Regions from separate parts of the Homo sapiens genome. Here region 1 is linked to region 2. The links come from fine-mapping of genetic effects on gene expression. A gene starts in region 2. The other region holds a variant in brackets. All regions are shown on one strand. Distances are from middle to middle. Region 1 overlaps PRKAB1-AS1 (PRKAB1, TMEM233 and CCDC60 antisense RNA 1). Region 2 holds the start of PRKAB1-AS1 (PRKAB1, TMEM233 and CCDC60 antisense RNA 1).

The links.
Region 1: its variant is fine-mapped to the expression of PRKAB1-AS1 in skeletal muscle (GTEx, PIP 0.96).

Annotation. Positions count from the first base shown.
Region 1 is chr12:119,562,205-119,571,788 of GRCh38, forward strand. The region is part of intron 1 of PRKAB1-AS1 (PRKAB1, TMEM233 and CCDC60 antisense RNA 1); the gene reads right to left. Among named protein-coding and RNA genes, the nearest start is that of TMEM233, 27 kb to the right of the region's middle. The variant C/T (reference allele first, on the strand shown) is at 5,360.
Region 2 is chr12:119,663,657-119,673,240 of GRCh38, forward strand. PRKAB1-AS1 (PRKAB1, TMEM233 and CCDC60 antisense RNA 1) reads right to left here and starts at 4,471. Exons shown (of 3, transcript NR_188494.1): 1 at 4,287-4,471. PRKAB1 (protein kinase AMP-activated non-catalytic subunit beta 1) reads left to right here and starts at 4,477. Exons shown (of 7, transcript NM_006253.5): 1 at 4,477-4,747; 2 at 8,645-8,808. The coding sequence starts at 4,589. RefSeq lists enhancers at 2,045-2,189, 4,324-4,733, 5,172-5,807, a cis regulatory region at 2,109-2,126 and a silencer at 3,954-4,223.

The DNA of each region.
Region 1 (9,584 bases), 100 kb before region 2:
AGCTCACTGCAACCTCCACCTCCTGGCTCAAGTGATTCTCGTGTCTCAGCCTCCTGAGTAGCTAGGATTATAGGTGCTCAACATCATGCCTGGCTAAATTTTTGTATTTTTAGTAGATGGGGTTTCACCACGTTGGCCAGCCTGGTCTGGAACTCCTGACCTGAAGCAATTGGCCTACCTCAGCCTCCCAAAATGCTGGGATTACAGGTGTGATCCGCCACACCTGGCTGCAATCTCCTCTTCTGAAAAGGTCATGGAGGGAAGAAATGCATCTCTCTAAAGAATACTTTGTGTGATGGAGAGGAAAGGCTTCTCCTTCTCTCTCTCTGGAACAAAGTGGAAGTTGGGATTTGGAGGAGAGATAGTCAAAGACTCCAACGACATGGGAAACAGGATGAGCCCACGACACCATGGCAGGAGAAAAAGGTTCACCAGTTGGGGTGCTCATGAGCACGATGCATGAGCTCTAAAATATGTGAAGTCCGGGATTTAGGGTCCAGGCTTTCCTATGATGTTTTTCTGCTCTCACCTCCAGATCTCCAGTAAAAGAAATGGGGCTAATTAGGGCAATGAAAGATGTCTAGCAGAGAACTTAGGAGGAGGCTCCCAGAGGAATACTCTTAAAACAGATGTGGGAACATGAAAGCATTCCTCAAGGACCCCCAGAAATGCCCAGGGAGCACTACCTGGTATAAAACTGCAATTCTTTTGGATCAACGCAAAACAGAGCTCAATTATATAACAACTGTAATGGAAGATGACCCATGAAAGCTGGAAAATCCCAAGACATCTGGGTAACAATGAACTCCACAGAAACGACTGAGATCAATTCTGTATTCAGAAATAGAAAGACAATGGTGAGGCTGGGCGCAGTGGCTCAATGCCTGTAATCCCAGCACTTTGGGAGGCCAAGGAGAGTGGATCACAAGGTCAGGAGTTCAAGACCAGCCTGGCCAACATGGTGAAACCCCATCTCTATTAAAAATACAAAAATTAGCCGGGCGTGTTGGTGGACGCCTGTAATCCCAGCTACTGGGGAGGCTGAGACAGGAGAATTGCTTGAAACCGGAAGGCAGAGGTTGCAGTGAGCCGAGATCACCCACTGCACTCCAGCCTGGGCGAAAGAGCAAAACTCCGTCTCAAAAAAAAAAAAAAAGAGAGAGAAAGACAATGGTGAGCAAGATGGACATGGTCTTGAACCTCACAGATAAATATTCAACAAGTACGTACTTGTGGATTCCAATGGATGTGACAGTCTAGTAAGAGTTTTGGCAAACTTTTTCTGTAAAGGAACAGAAAATAAATATTTGAGACTTTGTGAGTCGTATGGTCTCTGCTGAACTCGGCCATGGTGGTGTGAAAGCAGTCACAGACAATGCATAAACAAACAGGCAATGCTGTGTTCCCATTAAGCTTTATTTAAGGATACTGCAATTTGAATTTCATACAATTTTCACATGTCAGAGACTATTATTCTCTTTTTTAGCTACTTAAAAATGCAAAAATTATTCTTAGTTCTCAGGTCATACAAAAACAGGTGGCAGGATGGATGTGGACCATGGGGTGTGGTTTGGCTACTCCTGGTTGAAGGTTAGGCCTAAGACATACATAATAATAATTAATTAAAAATAAGCCGGGCGCAGTGATTCACACCTGTAATCCTAGCACTTTATGAGGCTGAGGTGGGTGGATCACCTAAGGTCAGGAGTTCGAGACCAGCCTGGCCAACATGGCGAAACCCCGTCTCTACTAAAAATACAAAAATTAGCTGGGCGTGGTGACGGGTGCCTGTAATCCCAGCTACTTGGGAGGCTGAGGCAGAGAATCACTTGAACCAGGGAGGCAGAGATTGCAGTGAGCCGAGATCACACCACTGCACTCCAGCCTGGGCAACAGAGCAAGACTCTATCTCAAAAATAATAATAATAATAATAACAATAAATAAAAATAGCTTATGGTCTTGAGCACAGGTCTAAGTGCCAGGTGCTATGCCAAGTATGCTTTGCTATAATGATATTACACTTATAATTTGGAATTTTTTTTAGAGCTCTGTCACTCAGGCTGGAGTGCAATGGCACAATTAGAGCTCATTATAACCCTGAACTCCTGGGCTCAAGCGATCCTCCCACCTCAGCCTCCTAAGTAGCTGGGGCTACTGGCAGATGCCACCATACCCAGCTGATTTCTTTAAATTTTTTGTAGAGATGAGGTCTGACTATGTTGCCCAGGCTGGTCTTGAACTCCTGGCCTCGAGCAATCCTCCCACCTCAGCCTTCCAAAGCACTGAGATTACAAGCATGAGCCACTGCACCCAGCCTATAAATTGGCTTTCTTCTCAACTTTCTTGAGTGAGAAAGAAGAGAGGGGTATTGCACTAATTTTCCAAGAATTTAGCATAACTGGGTGGTGTCATCCTGTCTCTTCAAAGAAAATGTCAAAATGACTGCCCTGGGCACCTCCTCTCAAGCTCTCCAAATGCCAAGCAAGAAAGGATCATTGGGTCCAATCTTGCCACTCTCTCTATATATATTTTAAAAACTATTTAGTGGCTGGGCACGGTGGCTCACACCTGTAACCCCAGCACTTTGGGAGGCTGAGGCAGGCAGATCACCTGAGGTCCAGAGTTGGAGACCAGCCTGGCCAACATGGTGAAACCCAGTCTCTACTAAAAATACAAAAATTAGGCCGGGCGCGGTGGCTCACACCTGTAATCCCAGCACTTTGGGAGGCCGAGGCGGGTGGATCACGAGGTCAGGAGATCGAGACCATCCTGGCTAACACGGTGAAACCCCGTCTCTACTAAAAAATACAAAAAATTAGCCGGGCGTGGTGGTGGGCGCCTGTAGTCCCAGCTACTTGGGAGGCTGAGGCAGGAGAATGGCGTGAACCCGGGAGGCGGAGCTTGCAGTGAGCCAAGATTGTGCCACTGCACTCAAGCTTGGGCGACAGAGCGAGACTCTGTCTCCAAAAAAAAAAAAATTAGCCAGGCGTGGTGGTGCGTACCTGTAATCCCAGCTACTCAGGAGGCTGAGGTAGGAGAATAGCTTGAACCCAGAAGGTGGAGGTTCCAGTGAGCTGAGATTGCACCACTGCCCTCCAGCCTTGGAGACAGAGTGAGACTCTGTCTCAAAAAAATAAAAATAAATAAATACATATATGTTTTTAAAAACCTATTTAGACAGAATTAACGGAAAATGCACCCAAACATAGCAACCATCCTGCCACCTCTGGTGACTCCATTTACCACCAGTTCCCCTTGCCCCAGTGACCATCTAACTTCTGGTCACAAATTGGCAAAAGGGATCACAGAAAACCAAGTGGCCTTGGGTCACCAGACCATCCTGCCCAACAAGGCAACCTTTGCTAAGAGTGACTCACTGTGGCAGAGAGGCAAGTTTAACAGGCATCTGGGCAGGAAGCACTGCCCTGTTTATTGATGGCAAACTGTTTGCCAGAGTAAGAGCTCTTTGGGGACTTCTGAAGGTGTTTGGCAAGCCCCAGTCCCGAAGGCTACTGTGCGCTAAGAAAGGACCTGTGGGCCTCTGAAAACTCAGCAGCTAAAAGGTCACCGCCCCAGAAGCCTATTAAGGAAACAGCATGAAAAGTTCTCCATCCCAGGAGGATGCATGGGAGCGAGCTACCATGTCTTTTTTTTTTTTTTTTTTTTGAGACCGAGTTTCGCTCTTATTGCCCAGGCTGGAGTGCAGTGTCACGATCTCAGCTCACTGCAACCTCCGCCTCCCAGGTTCAGGCGATTCTCCTGCCTCAACCTTCCTGAGTAGCTGGGATTATAGGCACGCACCACCATGCATGGCTGATTTTGTATTTTTAGTAGAGATGGCGTTTCTCCATGTTGGCCACGCTGGTCTCGAACTCCCAGCCTCAGATGATCCACCCGCCTCAGCCTCCCAAAGTGCTGAGATTACAGGCATGAGCAACCAAGCCCAGCCTACCACGTATCTCTTTAAGAGATGCCCCTCCTCTAGGAGTAAGTCACGCCCTCGACCCCATTCCCTGTAACTTCTCCCTTGGAGAAGTTCTCCCTTAGAGCAATTTGCAAAACTGTAATTCGGTATGTGTGTATATTTTATACCCACACGGCTTCAAGTTCTGTAAGTGTGTTTGCTGTGCTGTAATCCACTTAGCACAGTGCCAGACGCATGATAAAAACCTGTTGACCACATGAGATATCACCTCACACCCATGAGGATGGCTATAGTCAAAAGAAATTGAAAATAACAAATATTAGTGATGATAGGGAGAAACTGGAACCCTTGTGTACCATTGGTGAGAATGTAAAATAGTGTAGCTGTTACAGAAAACAGTATGGCAGTTCTTCAAAACATTAAAAAGAGAGTTGAAAGCACGGCCTCAAAAAGAGACTTGTATACCTATTTTCATAGCATTATTCACAACAGCCAAAAGGTGGAAGCAACCGAACTGTCCACCGACAGCTATTTAGGTTTGTGAAACAAAACCCAATCCAAGCCCACTCAAGCAAAAAAACAAAAATTCATTGGCTCAAATGAAAAAAAAGAAATCCAAAGATAGATGTTTCAGCCATAGCAGGATCCAGGTGTTCAAAATGGAAGATTTCAACACATATCTTGCAGTAACTGAGTCTTTGAACAACACAATTTAAAAATCTGATTTAATAGATATATACAGAACCCAGTACCCAACAATTAGAGAACACACATTCTTCTCAATTACATATGAAACAGTTACAAAAAGTGACCACATTTCAGGCAGTAAAGTGTTTCAACAACTTTCAAAGAATCAATGTCATATAGATTATGATCTCTGATCAGAATGTAATGGAGTCGATAACAAAAAGAAAACAAAAAATGTTGACCTTAGAGAATGTGCTTCTCAATTTTAAAAAGAAGAACATGCTTCTATATAACATGAATCCAAGAAAAATCATAATGAAAATGTACAAATACTTACAATTGAAAATAATGAAAATGCTATAAATTAAAGTTTATGGGATGCATCTAGTGAAGTACTTCAAAAAATGTATATTCTTAAATTTTTATATTAAAAATAAAGGCTAAAAATTAGTGAACTAAGTATCCAGGTTAGGAAGTTATAAATATAACAAAGTAAGCTCAAAGAAAGAAGGAAGGCAATAGTAATAGTAAAAAGAATATAAATTAATAGGCCGGTTGCAGCAGCTCATGCCTGTAATCCCAGCACTTTGGGAGGCCAAGGCAGGTGGATCACCTGAGATCAGGAGTTCAAGACCAACCTGGCCCACCTGGTAAAACCCCATCTCTACTAAAAATACAAAACATTGGCCGGGCATGGTGGCACACACCTGTAATCCTAGCTACTCGGGAGCCTGAGTCAGGAGAAT[C/T]GCTTGAACCCTTGGAGGTGGAGGTTGCGGTGAGCCAAGATCATGCCATTGTACTCCAGCCTGGGCGACAAGAGCAAAAACTCCATCTCAAAAATATATATATTATATATATATATAAAATATATAATATATATTATAATATATGTATTATATATAATATATATAAATTATATATAATATATAATATATATAAATTATAATATATAATATATATAATATAATATATATTATATATAAATAAATAAATGATTTTTTAAAAAATGAAATGTTGGTTCTTCAAGAAAAAATAATAACAGATGCAGGTCTCTGGTGAGATTGATCTAGTAAAGAGAGAGAAAAAGCACAAATGGAGAATATGTCTAAAAATACGTAAAAGAGAGATTTTAAAAGATAATGAAATACTATGAAAAACTTCATGACAATAAATTTGACAGTTTAGACTACATGGAAAATTATATATGGAAAATTATATATTTTACAAAACTGGCTCAGAAAGAAACAGAAAACAAGAATAGTTCTAAAACGAAGAAAATTTGTCAGTAATTTAAAATATTTCCTCAAAGGAAAGAAAAAGATCTAGATAGAATTGTAAAAACTTACAGCAAATTTTCAAGAAACAGATAATTCCAATTTTATACAAGTGCTTCCGAAGAATTCCTGAGAGGAAATGTACCCGTTAATCTAATATAATTCCGATACCAAAACCAGACAGAAAATGAAAAAGGAAAGTTACAGGATAATCTTGCAAATAAATATATGTGCAAAAATCCTAAATATCGGAAAGCAAAACCTAGCTATATGTTCATGAAATATATCATTCATATATCGTATCGTAAACTATATCATATAATAAAATCCTTCATGGCCAATTTGGCTTATACCATGAACGTAAGATTAGCTTAACCTTTAAAAATCCTTTAATGTAAATTGTCACATTTTCAGATCAAAGGAAAAAAACTATATGATCTTGTCAATGGATGAAGAAAAGGCATTGGATAGAATTCAACATTCATTTGTAATTTGTTTTAAAAAACAGAGCACACTTAGCAAACTAGGAATAGGAGAAAAAAAATAGTTAACTTGATAAACGTGTCTACCTAAAACCTGTAACAGAAATCATAATTGCAGGTAAAATTTAGAAGTATTCCCTTTAGAGGAGGGAACAAAAGAAGGGTGCTCATTCTCACTTCTTCCATTCAAAATTGTACTGGATACCCCAGCCAATGCAATAATACGAGATGAATTAAACCAAGGTAGAATGATTAAAATATGGCAACAAAATGAATTATTTGCAATGAATGTGATTATTCACATAGAAACTGCAAAGACTCTATAAATTATTAGAATAAATTAGGCAATTTAGCAAGGTAATTGAATATAATAGTGATATAAAATTTAACTGTATTTATCTGCATCAACAACAAACAGAAATATAACATTTAAAATACTCAACAGGCCAGGCACAGTGTCTCACGCCTGTAATCCCAGTACTTTGGGAGGCCAAGACGGGCGGATCACTTGAGGTCAGGAGTTCGAGACCAGCCTGGCCAACACGGTGAAACTGCATCTCTACTAAAAATACAAAAATTAGCTGGGCTTGAACCCAGGAGGCAGAGGTTGCAGTGAGCCGAGATCATGCCACTGCACTCCAGCCTGGGTGACAGAGCGAGACTCCTTCTTAAAAAATAATAAATAATAAAATAAAATACTCAATGATGATGGCAAAATAAACTGGTAGCCAGAAATACAGATATTTTAAAAATAAGCAGAGCCTCAAGTGGAAAATTATACAACTATACAACTCCCTTGAAAGACATTAAAGACATATTTATATCAAGAAAGACATTTCTCCCCAAATTGATTATATAAATATTCAGGCAATTTCAAATGAAATTCTAATAAAGTTTTTTGTGAAACTTGAAAAGCTAATTCCAAAAGAGAAAAAAGCCAAAGACAGCCACGACATTTTTTGGAAAAGAAAAAGAAATCAAGACTTACCTTAGAAAACTATAGCAATTAAGATAGTACTTTATTGGTGCAAAAATATTAAAAATAGTTTAATTAAACAGAGTAGAGAGTGCAGACACAGTACTAGACATACGACAAAAGAAATATCACAGGTCACTAGGAAAAGTATACCCCTACTCTATAAACACCACTAGGACAATAAGCTATCTGTAAAAAAATTTTTTTTAATTTGATTTCTACTTCACACTATTAAAAAATACAGCTCCAAATGGATTAAAGACTTAAATGTGAGACCGGGCATGGTGGCTCACACCTGTAATCCCAGCATTTTGAGAGACCGAGGCAGGTGGATCACTTGAGGTCAGGAGTTCAAGACCAGCCTGGCCAACATGGCCAAACCCCATCTCTACTAAAAATACAACAATTAGCTGGGCTTGGTGGTGTGCACCTGTAATCCCAGCTACTCAGGAGACTGAGGCAGGAGAATCACTTGAACTCATGAGGCGGAGGATGTAGTGAGCTGAGATCACACTACTGCACTCCAGCCTGGATGATGAGACTCCGTCTCAAAAAAAAAAAAAAAAAAAAAGACTTAAATGTGAAAATAAAAGTCTAAATTTTTGAAGAAAATATGAATGACCTTGAGTTTAATAAAGGATTTCTAAACGAGTTATCATAAAGGAAAACTGAGTTCTATGCTCAGATATATTTGGCAATATAAAAACTTCTACTTACAACGTCATAAACAGGGGACTTCACTTCTGGTTCTGATGAACTAGCCTGTATCAGAATGTTCCTGGCAAAAGCAATTTGAAAAGATTAATAAATGCCCAAAAAATCTATCTGAAGGCATTGCAAAGATATCAAAGCAGCCAGGGCTTAAGAGGTTAAAGTTCTCTGAGCCCGCCGAGGTTAGTCTGACATTCTATGCCATCTTCTGCCAATTTGTCAATAGCACCAAGCTAAGAAACTGAGAAGAAAGTGGATATAAGAGGTTGAGCTGTTTAGCAAAGCTTTCCACCATCACAACAGTACTGGAGAAGCAAAATAAGAGCTCAGGATCTAACAAGGAGAAAGGTCACAGGTTGCATTAGTCTGTTTTCACACTGCTATAAAGAACTACCCGAGACCGGGTAATTTATAAAGGAAAGAGATTTAATTGATTCACAGTTCCGAGTGGCTGGGGAGGCCTCAGGAAACTTACAATCACGGTAGAAGGTAAAGGAGAAGCAAAGGCACATCTTACGTGGCAGCAGGAGAGAGAAGTGAGAGCACAGGAAAAACTGCTGCTTTTAAAACCATCAGATCTTGTGAGAATTTCCTCACTATCACAAGAACAGTATGGGGGAAACTGCCCCGTGATCCAATCACTTCCCCTCCTCCACACGTGAGGATTACAGTTCGAGATGGGATTTGGGTGGGGACACAGAGCCAAACCATATAACAGGAAAGCACACCCAGGCTTTCACTTGAATTTCAATGAAAGGGCTGTCCCTTTCACTGAAAAGGGCTATACGCCAAAAGTGAGGGCAAACCAGAAATAAGACGCCAAAAGTGAGGGCAAACCAGAAATAAGACAAACCTCATGAAGACTGAACCCAGTGATGTGCCAGAGCTGGCTCATATCAACTTCTGAGGAGCCAGTTGTTAAATTTACATTAATTCTGTGAACCACCTGTTAAATGCAGCCATTATTTAAAATGATTATATGAACTTACAATTAAATAAATTATATTTAAAACAAAGATGATGACCAGGCACTATGGCTCCTGCCTGTAATCCCACCACCTTGGGAGGCGAACGTGGGTGGATCGCTTGAGTTCTAGACCAGCCTGGCTGACATGGTGAAACTCTGTCTCTACTAAAAATACAAAAATTAACCAAGTGTGGTGACGCATACCTGTAATCCCAGCTACTCAGGAAGCGGAGGTGGGAGGATCACTTGAGCCTGGGAGGCAGAGTTTGCAGTGAGCTAAGATTGTGCCACTGCACTCCAGCCTGGGCAACAGAGTGAGACTCCCACTCAAAAATAAATAAATAAATAAATAAAACAAAGATAATAAAAATTCAATGTTTTCCAATTATTTTACAATATTTTATTATTATTGATGCTTCGAGGTTATTTCTTTCTATAGCATATATATGGTAGAAACACTATATAATGGTGTGCTAACTATACATCTCTTTCCAACATCACACTTAGTGACCTCAGGTTGGTGAGAATATTTACACCACAGAAATTGGTAACATTACAAAT
Region 2 (9,584 bases):
GTTACTTACATTGGCTAGGCAAAATTCAGAAGGCCTGGTGGAAATCTGGTTAAGCCCTAAAAGTAAGCTTGTAATTCTATCCTAGCAGCCCACACACATTTGAGTCTGTCTTAGTCAGCTCAGACTGCTATAACAAATCATCAACTGGGTGGCTTAAACAACAGAGATTTACTTCTCCCAGGTCCGAAAGCTGGAAGTCTAATATCAGTGATATAATTTGGATACTTTTCCCCCTAAATCTTACACTGAAATGTAATCCCATGTTGGAGGTGAGGCCTCCAACATGGTGGGAGGTGACTGCATCATGGAGGTGGACTTCTCATGAATAGTGTAGCACCATCGTCTTGGTGCTGCCCTCACAAGATCTGGTTGTTTAAAAGCGTGCGGCACCTCCTCCCACTTTTTTTCTTACTCCCACTCTTGCCATGTGATACATCAATACATCGGCTCCCCCTTGGCTTCCTGAGGCCTCACCAGAAGCAAGCAGATACCCAGAGCCATGCTTGCTGTACAGCCTACAGAACCATAAGCCAAGTAAACCTCTTTTCTTTATAACTTACTCAACCTCAAATATTTCTTTATAGCAATACAAGAATGGCCTAATACAATCAGGGTGCCAGGATGGTTGATGTGTGGTGAGGGCTCTTTCCCTGAGTTGCAGATGGCCGCCTTCTTGCTTTGTCATCACATGGCCTTTCCATTGAGCATGGGCGTGAATAGACAGCATGCGAGCAAGCTCTCCAGCGTCTCTTCTTCCCATAAGTACCCTGATCTCATCATGGGGGCCCCACTCTCATGAGCTCATCTAACCCTAATTACCCCTTGAAGGCCCCACCTCCAAACATTATAAAATTGGGAGTGGGAGTGCAAATGTATGAATTTTGGGGGGATACAATTTAGTCTACAGCATAGTCCAAATGTGAAATTTCTTCCTCCAGCTACCGATGTTTAGTGAGAACACTGCCTGTTCTCACCACATGTGCATATGTGTGTGGACTCTTTCCTCTGGAGGGCAAGAACTTGGTTTTGTTCACTGTTGTAACCAAGAGTTACAACAGTGCCTGGCTCATAATTGGCACTCAATATTGCCATTGAGTTATTTGTGATCAGAGCCCTGGCTGTTCTTAGATGGGGAGGGTTCTTCAGAACAGTACAAATGTTTGTAGACAGGCCAGCTGGGGAACCAAAGGTCTTTTTGATGAGGTGCCATGACCATGATGTAGTGGGGAGTGGCCAGGTGATCCAGAATTCAGTCTCAGTATGACCTATGATCATCTGAGTGACCTCAGGCAAAACTGTTCGATCTCTGGGACTTAGACTCTTCCTTATATAAAACAAATGGGTTGGTCAGTTCAGAAGTGCTATACTGATTCTAATCCATCCTATGGAGGAGGCCCCAAAACATTATCCTTAACCCTTTTAATCATAAATTTAAGGATAAATGAGATTTTATCTCACTCTGGGTGACTTTTAAGGACTTGAAAACCTACTTCTTTTTGTGCTTGGAGCTGGAGTGAATTTGAAGCCAGGGTTGCGGGGGTGGGGGAGGGGTACTCCTAGCTGTGGCTGTGTTAAAATTGCCCTGGTTTGTTTGGGGGAGAATCTAGGGTATTTATCATTTGTCTTTGCCCTGGTGCCAGACAGACAGCAGTGAGTAGATGATGCCTTTTACACAGCAATGTGCTAACAGTTATACTTCCTGGCACACCTCCAGCCCCCAAGATGGAATGGTCTGACATCCATATCAGCAGAGAATCAGAGAAAGATGAGACGCTCTGATGCTTAGGAAAGTCACAAACCATTGTTACACAGATAAGTAACACAAAATGACCCAAGAGAGACACAGCTGGGACCCAAGTAGACACTTGTAATTGGCGAGTCTACCCTACCCATGATTTTCAATATGGGGTCAATAGCTGATAGATACCAATGTTAGTTTCTTTGTCATGAAATCTTGATACAATGTGGTAAGAGTTTCCAATCAGCAGTTGGTGGCATCCTCAGGATATTGTTGATTGTATTTGACATCAAGGGCCACCCATGCTTTCACTGTTATCTTATTCAAGCTAGTGCAGATGTCTTAAAACTTTCTTCATGCATCAAAGCATCTGCATAGCTCAGATAAAGAATCCACAGCTCATGTGTTCTTTCTTATCTCTCCGGCTGTTTGGGAGAGATTTCAAAACTCAACACCCCACTGTCTCATGTAACCAAGTCAGGGCCACTATTAGAAAAGCAGCTCAAAGAAGATATCCTGGGTCATCCACAGTATCTTAGCTTATTTAATTCAGCAAGCACATTCAACATTTCTGATTATACTGAATACATTCAAATTCTCAGTCATCAGCTTCAGGAAGACCCTCCTGGCTCCCATCCCTTTTCCTGGCTCCCATCCCTTTTCCTGGCCTGGCTTAAGTCCCTTCTGGGCTCCCACAGGATCCCTTACCTAGCTATATTATTGCTTTTCTGTGGGTCGGTGCCAGCCTGTACTGTATTAATTCCTTTGGGGCTGGAACCATATCTTATTTTTTTAAATTAAAAAGTAGTACATCCTCACAATAGAAAACTTTTCAAATACAGAACTATATAAATGAAAAGTGAAAGTCCCTTTTCTGTCTGCTCCTATTTGCAATCTCCCTCCTCTCCCCACAGAAGACCACTATTAACAATGTGTTGTATACCCTTCCAGAACTTTCCATTTGCTAGCCTAATAGTGCTAATAAAAGTGTTAACAGTTATTGAGTGTTTACTAAGAGTCAAGTGCTATGCTCAGCATTTTTATGCACGTTCCCAATTAATTCACAAAACAAGCCTATGAAGTAGGTGTTATTTTTGTTCCCATTTCACAAAAGAAGAGACTAAGGTGACAGTTACTAAATGGTAAAGCCAGAATCTGAACATGGCCAGGCTGAATTCAGAGCTCCTGCCCTTGAACTTGTTCTCTCACTTGCTTCCGGACCTTGCAATATCATAGACACTTCCCCATAGTGACCTAAAAATGGTTTCTCCCTTTTTAAAAGTTGCTTGGTATTCTACAAAATGAATGTATTCCATTCATTTTGCCATTCTCCTACTGAACAACTTTTAGGATTTTGTAGTTTTTCATTTCCTTATTTCACCAAGTGTAAGATTCCATTATTGTAAAAAGCATCCAGTTTCAGAAATTAAAATATATGGGGGCATGGGGGGTGACAAGTGCATCTTAGAATATATTTTTGCATGTAAATATTTTGTAGATAATGCTTGTAAATAATTTTCATGTGTGTATTTCTGCACAAGTTTCCTAGGAGTAAAATTGTGTGTCAAAATGAAGGTGCATTTTTAAATTTTGATGCATACTGCTGAATTCCCCCCAGGAAACCTTATCTTAGTCATCTTGTGTTCCTCATTTCCTTAGCACAATGTCTGGTACTTTTTTAGGTACTAAATAAATGTTCAGTGGGTGAAATGCATGACCTGACCCGGCAAATGCAAAGTATTTTGAGATATTCACACACCAAAAAACCCACAAAATATGACAATGACTGACAATGAGAAGATGAGAATATTTTACTACCGTATTTGTATGCACTTCTTGTTGAAGCACTGACCAGAGTAAATGACAAACGCTAATGCATCTTATGCAGAAGGATGTTTCCGAAGTGATTACAAGATATCTTGCAAAATTACCTATCAAAAGATTGCACACTCAATAAAAATACACGAATAACTCCAGCATTTTACAACCCCCAACCTACTAGACATAAGAAATTTCCAGAGATCTTATGGTCTGCCATTTTTTCAAATACCTGCAAGACTGCCTGCACCCCCGACCCTAATCTGTAGAAATCATGATTCTGCAGGTCTGCAGTGGGGGATGCATTTAACAAGCGCTCCAGGTTAACCTAATGCACTGTAAAGCGTGAGAACACGTGCATTAAAAGGGCTTTAAGAAGTGGAGTTTCTGAATCAGATTTGCATTTTAGAAAGATCCCTCTGGCTGCAGAGTGTAGAATCAACTATAAGTGAGCAAAGATAGCTAAATGGCATTATTCAGCCCAGCGCATGAACGGCTCAGATTGCCCGCGCGCTGGGGTGCCCCCTGCCGGCCCTCGGCAGCGCCTCGTCCTGGGCCTGGCCCTGGGCGGCCGGCTGCTGACTGCGACTGCGCGCTCCGAGGCCTGCAGAGACGGCCCGGGGCACCTGTTACCGCACCGCTCAAGACCGGAAGCGGAAATGGAATCGAGATAGCCTCGCGCGTTTAGCTGGCCGCCGCCACCTCCACGCCCTAGGCCGGGCCGACTTACGGAGTCGCCGGAAGCGGAAGTCGCTGAGGGGTGGTGAAGCGGTTGGGAAAGTGTCGGTTTATCTTCGCGCCCCTTGCGTTCTTGCCGCGGCTTGCCTGGGCAGGTAAAGCGCGATTGCGAGAGCTCGGCAACCCTGCCGACTCAGCCGGAACCGGCTCCCGGCCCGAGGGGCGTGGTGTCCTGGTGCTCCGACTCCTTCCGCAGGCTCCTTGGGACCCGCGGTTCCGGGAGTCCCTTGCTCAGGGTCCCTTTCCTGCAGTGAGGCGCCGTCCGCCTTCCCTGTGTCCCCGCAGACCCCCATCATGGGCAATACCAGCAGTGAGCGCGCCGCGCTGGAGCGGCATGGTGGCCATAAGACGCCCCGGAGGGACAGCTCGGGGGGCACCAAGGACGGGGACAGGCCCAAGATCCTGATGGACAGCCCCGAAGACGCCGACCTCTTCCACTCCGAGGAAATCAAGGTGCGAGCGGTGTGGAGGAACCCGATTCCCCTTGACTAATGTTGAGGAGAGGAACCCTCCACTAGATTCCCGTCACATCCTTTCGAAAAACACCAGAACGGAGAGGGAGGTGGTACATTACCCGGTGCACTTAAAAGCCAGATGGTCCTGTAAGAGTTCTCTTAGCGGTCCAAGAACCTGTGTCTAATTACCAATATGAGAAAGTCACCCTGAGGGAGGAGGTGCTCACTTGGTTTAACATCATTAAGGAGAAAGCAGCTCTGGGACAGAGTTTCAAATTCTTAATTAATTCAGAGTCGAGCTAACAGTAATTGAGCCCCAGCTTCTGCTTTTCTCTTAGGTGTAATTAATTGCACTGCTTTGAGACAAATTCCCTCACCTTTACACAAACTGGAGCTTTTGTAAAAGTTAGTTTGGGAATTTATCCATTTTGGAGGCAAACCAGGTACATATACAAGCTGAAAGTAGAGCGGAACAGCTGACGGCAGTTGCCAGAGGTGTTTAGTTCTGCCCAACACTTTTGATTCACCCTACTTATTTTTTAAAAGACGGTGGTCTCACTAATTAGCCGGGCGTGGTGGCGGGCGCCTGTGGTCCCAGCTACTCGGGAGGCTGAGGCAGGAGAATGGCGTGAACCCGGGAGGCGCAGCTTGCAGTGAGCCGAGGTCGCGCCACTGCACTCCAGCCTGGGCGACAGAGCTAGACTTCGTCTCAAAAAAAAAATATAAATAAAAATAAAAAAGACGGTGGTCTCACAATGTTCTCCAGGCTGGTCTCGAACTCCCGGGTTCAAGCAATCTTTATGCCTTGGCCTCCCAAAGTGCTGGGATCGCAGGCGTGAGCTACGGTGCTGGCCGGTTCAGCCTACTTTTTTTTTTTTTTGAGACCGAGTCTCGCTCTGTCGCCCAGGCTGGAGTGCAGTGGCGCGATCTCGGCTCACTGCAAGCTCCGCCTCCTAGGTTCACGCCATTCTCCTGCCTCAGCCTCCCGAGTAGCTGGGACGACAGGCACCCGCCACCACGCCCGGCTAATTTTTTATATTTTTAGTAGAGACGGGGTTTCACCGTGTTAGCCAGGATGGTCTCCATCTCCTGACCTCAGGAGATCCGCCTGCCTCGGCCTCCCAAAGTGCTGGGATTACAGGCGTGAGCCACTGAACCCACCCTACTTATTTTTTTTTTTTCCTTCTTTGAGATGGAGTCTCACTCTGTTGCCCAGGCTGGAGGGCAGTAGCACAATCTCGGGGCACTGCAACCTTCGTCTCCCGGACTCAAACCATCCTGCCTCAGCCTCCCGAGTAGCTGGGACTACAGGCGTGTGCCACCATGCCTGGCTAATTTTGTGTATTTTTGGTAGAGGTGGGGTTTCGCCATGTTGCCCAGGTTGGTCTTGAACTCCTGACCTCAAGTGATCCGCCCGCCTGGGCCGCCCAAAGTGCTGCGATTACAGGCATGAGCCACCACTCCCGGCCTCACCCTGCTTTTTTTTAAAGCGTACATAGAAAAGTCTTTCAGCTTCTAGAGGTCAGTGGGCGGTGAGGGTCTGTCTGAAGGAGGCAGCCAGCAGCTACTGAACTTCTCTCTAGTGTTGTTTAAATATGACTTAATCGTGCTTAAGCAGGCCAGTGCAAACATTTTTCTTCCTGCTGCAGCCTGTTTAAATTCAAAAACTCAGGTGACTTAACTCCTGCTTCAACCACACTCCTGTTAACCACCTTCATATGGTGGATATTTCCAGCCGCAGGGCTCAGTCCAAGGACACTTAGTGATTCTGGCAGCTGGTATTTATGTGTTATGTCCAAAAGGAACTAATTGTTTCAAGGAACAAAGTAGGTTTAGGAAAGATAAAGCTGCCCTCTGCCCAACATACCCTGTTAGTATCCAATTTCATGTTAATCATCATCCATTTAATTGCTTGGCAGCTCATTCCATCTGTGTTTGTCCTCATGTTGAGCGAGGTGATCACATCTCACACCTTCTTTTGGATCTTAGTTTTGAGCCTGACTACAAAGAGGCTGCTTTTATGTGGCCCTACAACCTGTGGTTTGAACTTGCTCTCTGAATTTGTTGCATTCTTGAAGAGCTGTGTGCAAAGTGAACTTTAGAATCATGTTTCTCTAATGACTTGACGTCCTTTCCCCAGGAGGTAATTTTGGTCCCTGGTCCCAAGAAGGCTATTTAAGACACCAAAGGAATCAAAACTACTTTCTTCAGAAGTATTTGTTCTGTTACTATTCCAAAACTCCTCCAGGAAATGTTGAGCACACACATCATCTATGGGGAATGATTTCAAGCAGCGTCCATTCTCACTTCATTAGAAGTTACTGAAATCCCCAGATACCAAAAAAGTCGTGAATTCTTTTAACTACACTAGGGTGCTATTTTGGTCATAATTAGTTATCCTTAGTGTGAAGTGATTCCAGTCTGTTATTTAATATGTAGATCTTGTTAGAATTCAAAGAATACAGGCATCATTTGGATAAGCTGAGGTCGGTATTTGAGATGAAGGTGCTAGAAGCCTGCTTAACTCCCTGAAGAGTCTTTTCCAGCCTGAACCTTCTGCTCTTTTTAAGTCTTTGGCTTCTGACTGGGAAAAAATCTAAAAGGTGCATGACTACATATGTCATCCAGATAGATTTGGATGAGTTTATTTCTTATTCTGGAATACCTCAGTTATACGGAGCTTACCACACTGGAGGTTATCATTTATCCTAATGAGGGTTCAGTCTTTGTCTTGCTTTATTCCCCAGTCCCTAGACAGAACTTTGTGAGTAGTTTTTCCCTTCCTCAAAATCTGGATTTGCCTATTTTCAAGTTGACAGCTCTAGAATTGTTCCTCTTAAATTTTCATGTACAGTCATACATCACTTAATGACAGGGACATATTCTGAGAAATACATCATTAGGTGATTTTATCATTGTGTGAACATCATAGAGTGTACTTACACAAACCTAGTCTGTTCTCATGCTACTATGTAGAAATACCCGAGACTGGGTAATTTATAAAGAAAAGAGGTTTAATTGACTCAGTTCCGCATGGCTGGGGAGGCCTTAGGAAACTTACAATCATGGTAAAAGGCACCTCTTCACAGGACGGCAGAAGAGAATGAGAGCAAGCAGGGGAAATGCCAGATGCTTATAAAACCATCAGATCTCATGAGACTCACTCACTGTCAGAGAACAGCATGGGGAAACCGCCCCCATGATCGATACCTCCACCTGGTCCTGCCCTTGACACGTGGGGATTATGGGGATTACAATTCAAGGTGAGATTTGGGTGGGGACGCAGAGCCAAACCGTATCACCTAGTCTATATGGTGTAACCTGTTGCTTATGGACTATAAACCTGTACAGCATGTTATTCTACTGAATACTGTAGACACTTATTCCACAAGTATATTTAAGGATTTGTGTACTTAAATGTATCTAAACATAGAAAAGATAACAATAAAAATATGGTATAATCTTATGGGACTACCATATACACAGTCCGTCGTTGACTAAGACATCATGCACATGACTGTACTTCAAATCTTGCTTGATTAAGGGAGGAACATGACATTAAGCTAGTCTTGGATTCGTAGTAGCCCCTTCCAAGTGTGTTTCATAGCTTCTTCTAGAATTTTGATGTCAACTTCTTTAATGACAACAATAGCTAATAATTAGCACTCACTGTGTCAGACACTATATAGAGCACTTACATGGACTGTCTCAGTCTTCACAACCTTAAAAAATATATTTCTATTTTGCAGGCAAGGAAACTGAGGCACCACTAGTAAGTTTCCGATCCTAACCATGAACCAAGATAGTAACAGCTGCGTCTTTAGAATGAATTGTCAATATTGTCTGTTGTAGGGAGCTCGCTTATGGCTTTCTGAGTAAACTGCTCTGCTTCTAGGCACCAGAGAAGGAGGAATTCCTGGCCTGGCAGCATGATCTGGAAGTGAATGATAAAGCTCCCGCCCAGGCTCGGCCAACGGTGTTTCGATGGACGGGGGGCGGAAAGGAAGTTTACTTATCTGGGTCCTTCAACAACTGGAGTAAACTTCCCCTCACCAGAAGGTAATTGCCTGGGGAGTGTTCACATATTTGTCTTAACATAAATTCTCTTCTTTCTAAAACATCTCTGAGAGAGAACAGAAAATGGATGTTTCTATAAAATGGATGCCTAGTGGAAAAATAATTTTGCTTAATAAGTCTTAAGGTTCAAATGTTAAACCTTGGTGGTCTCTAGGTTTAGAGTACAGAAGAAAGAGAATATTTCTGTGTCACAGACATCTTTCACTTCAGATCCTCAGCTATCTGTTCGGTCAGGACTTTTCCACAGAAACACAAAAATCTGTCTTAATGCAGTAAGGGAGCACTGGGCTGGAATCTTAGAAACCCACATTTGAGCCCACATTGGCCATGCTGTCAGTCACCTAACGTTAGTTAACCTGAGCCTCAGCGTTCGTTTCTGTAAAGAGGGAATATTGGACCAGATCATCTCTGAGGTTTCATCTAACTTTGACTCTGCGTAATACTTTGTTTGAAAAGTACATGTTGGCTGGGCATGGGGGCTCATGCCTATGATCTCAGCACTTTTGGGGGCTGAGGCAGGAGGATTGCTTGAGGCTAGGAGTTCAAGACCAGCCTGGGCAACATAGTGAGACCCCCATCTCTACAAAAAAATTAAAAATTAGCTGGACATGGTGGTGCACACCTGTATCCCCAGCTACTCGGGAGGCTGAGATGGGAGGATTGTTTGAGCCTGAGAGGTCAGTGCTGTAGTGAGCAGTGGTTGCACCACTGCACTCCAGCCTGGGCAACAGAGCAAGACTTTGTCTCCAAAAAGAAAA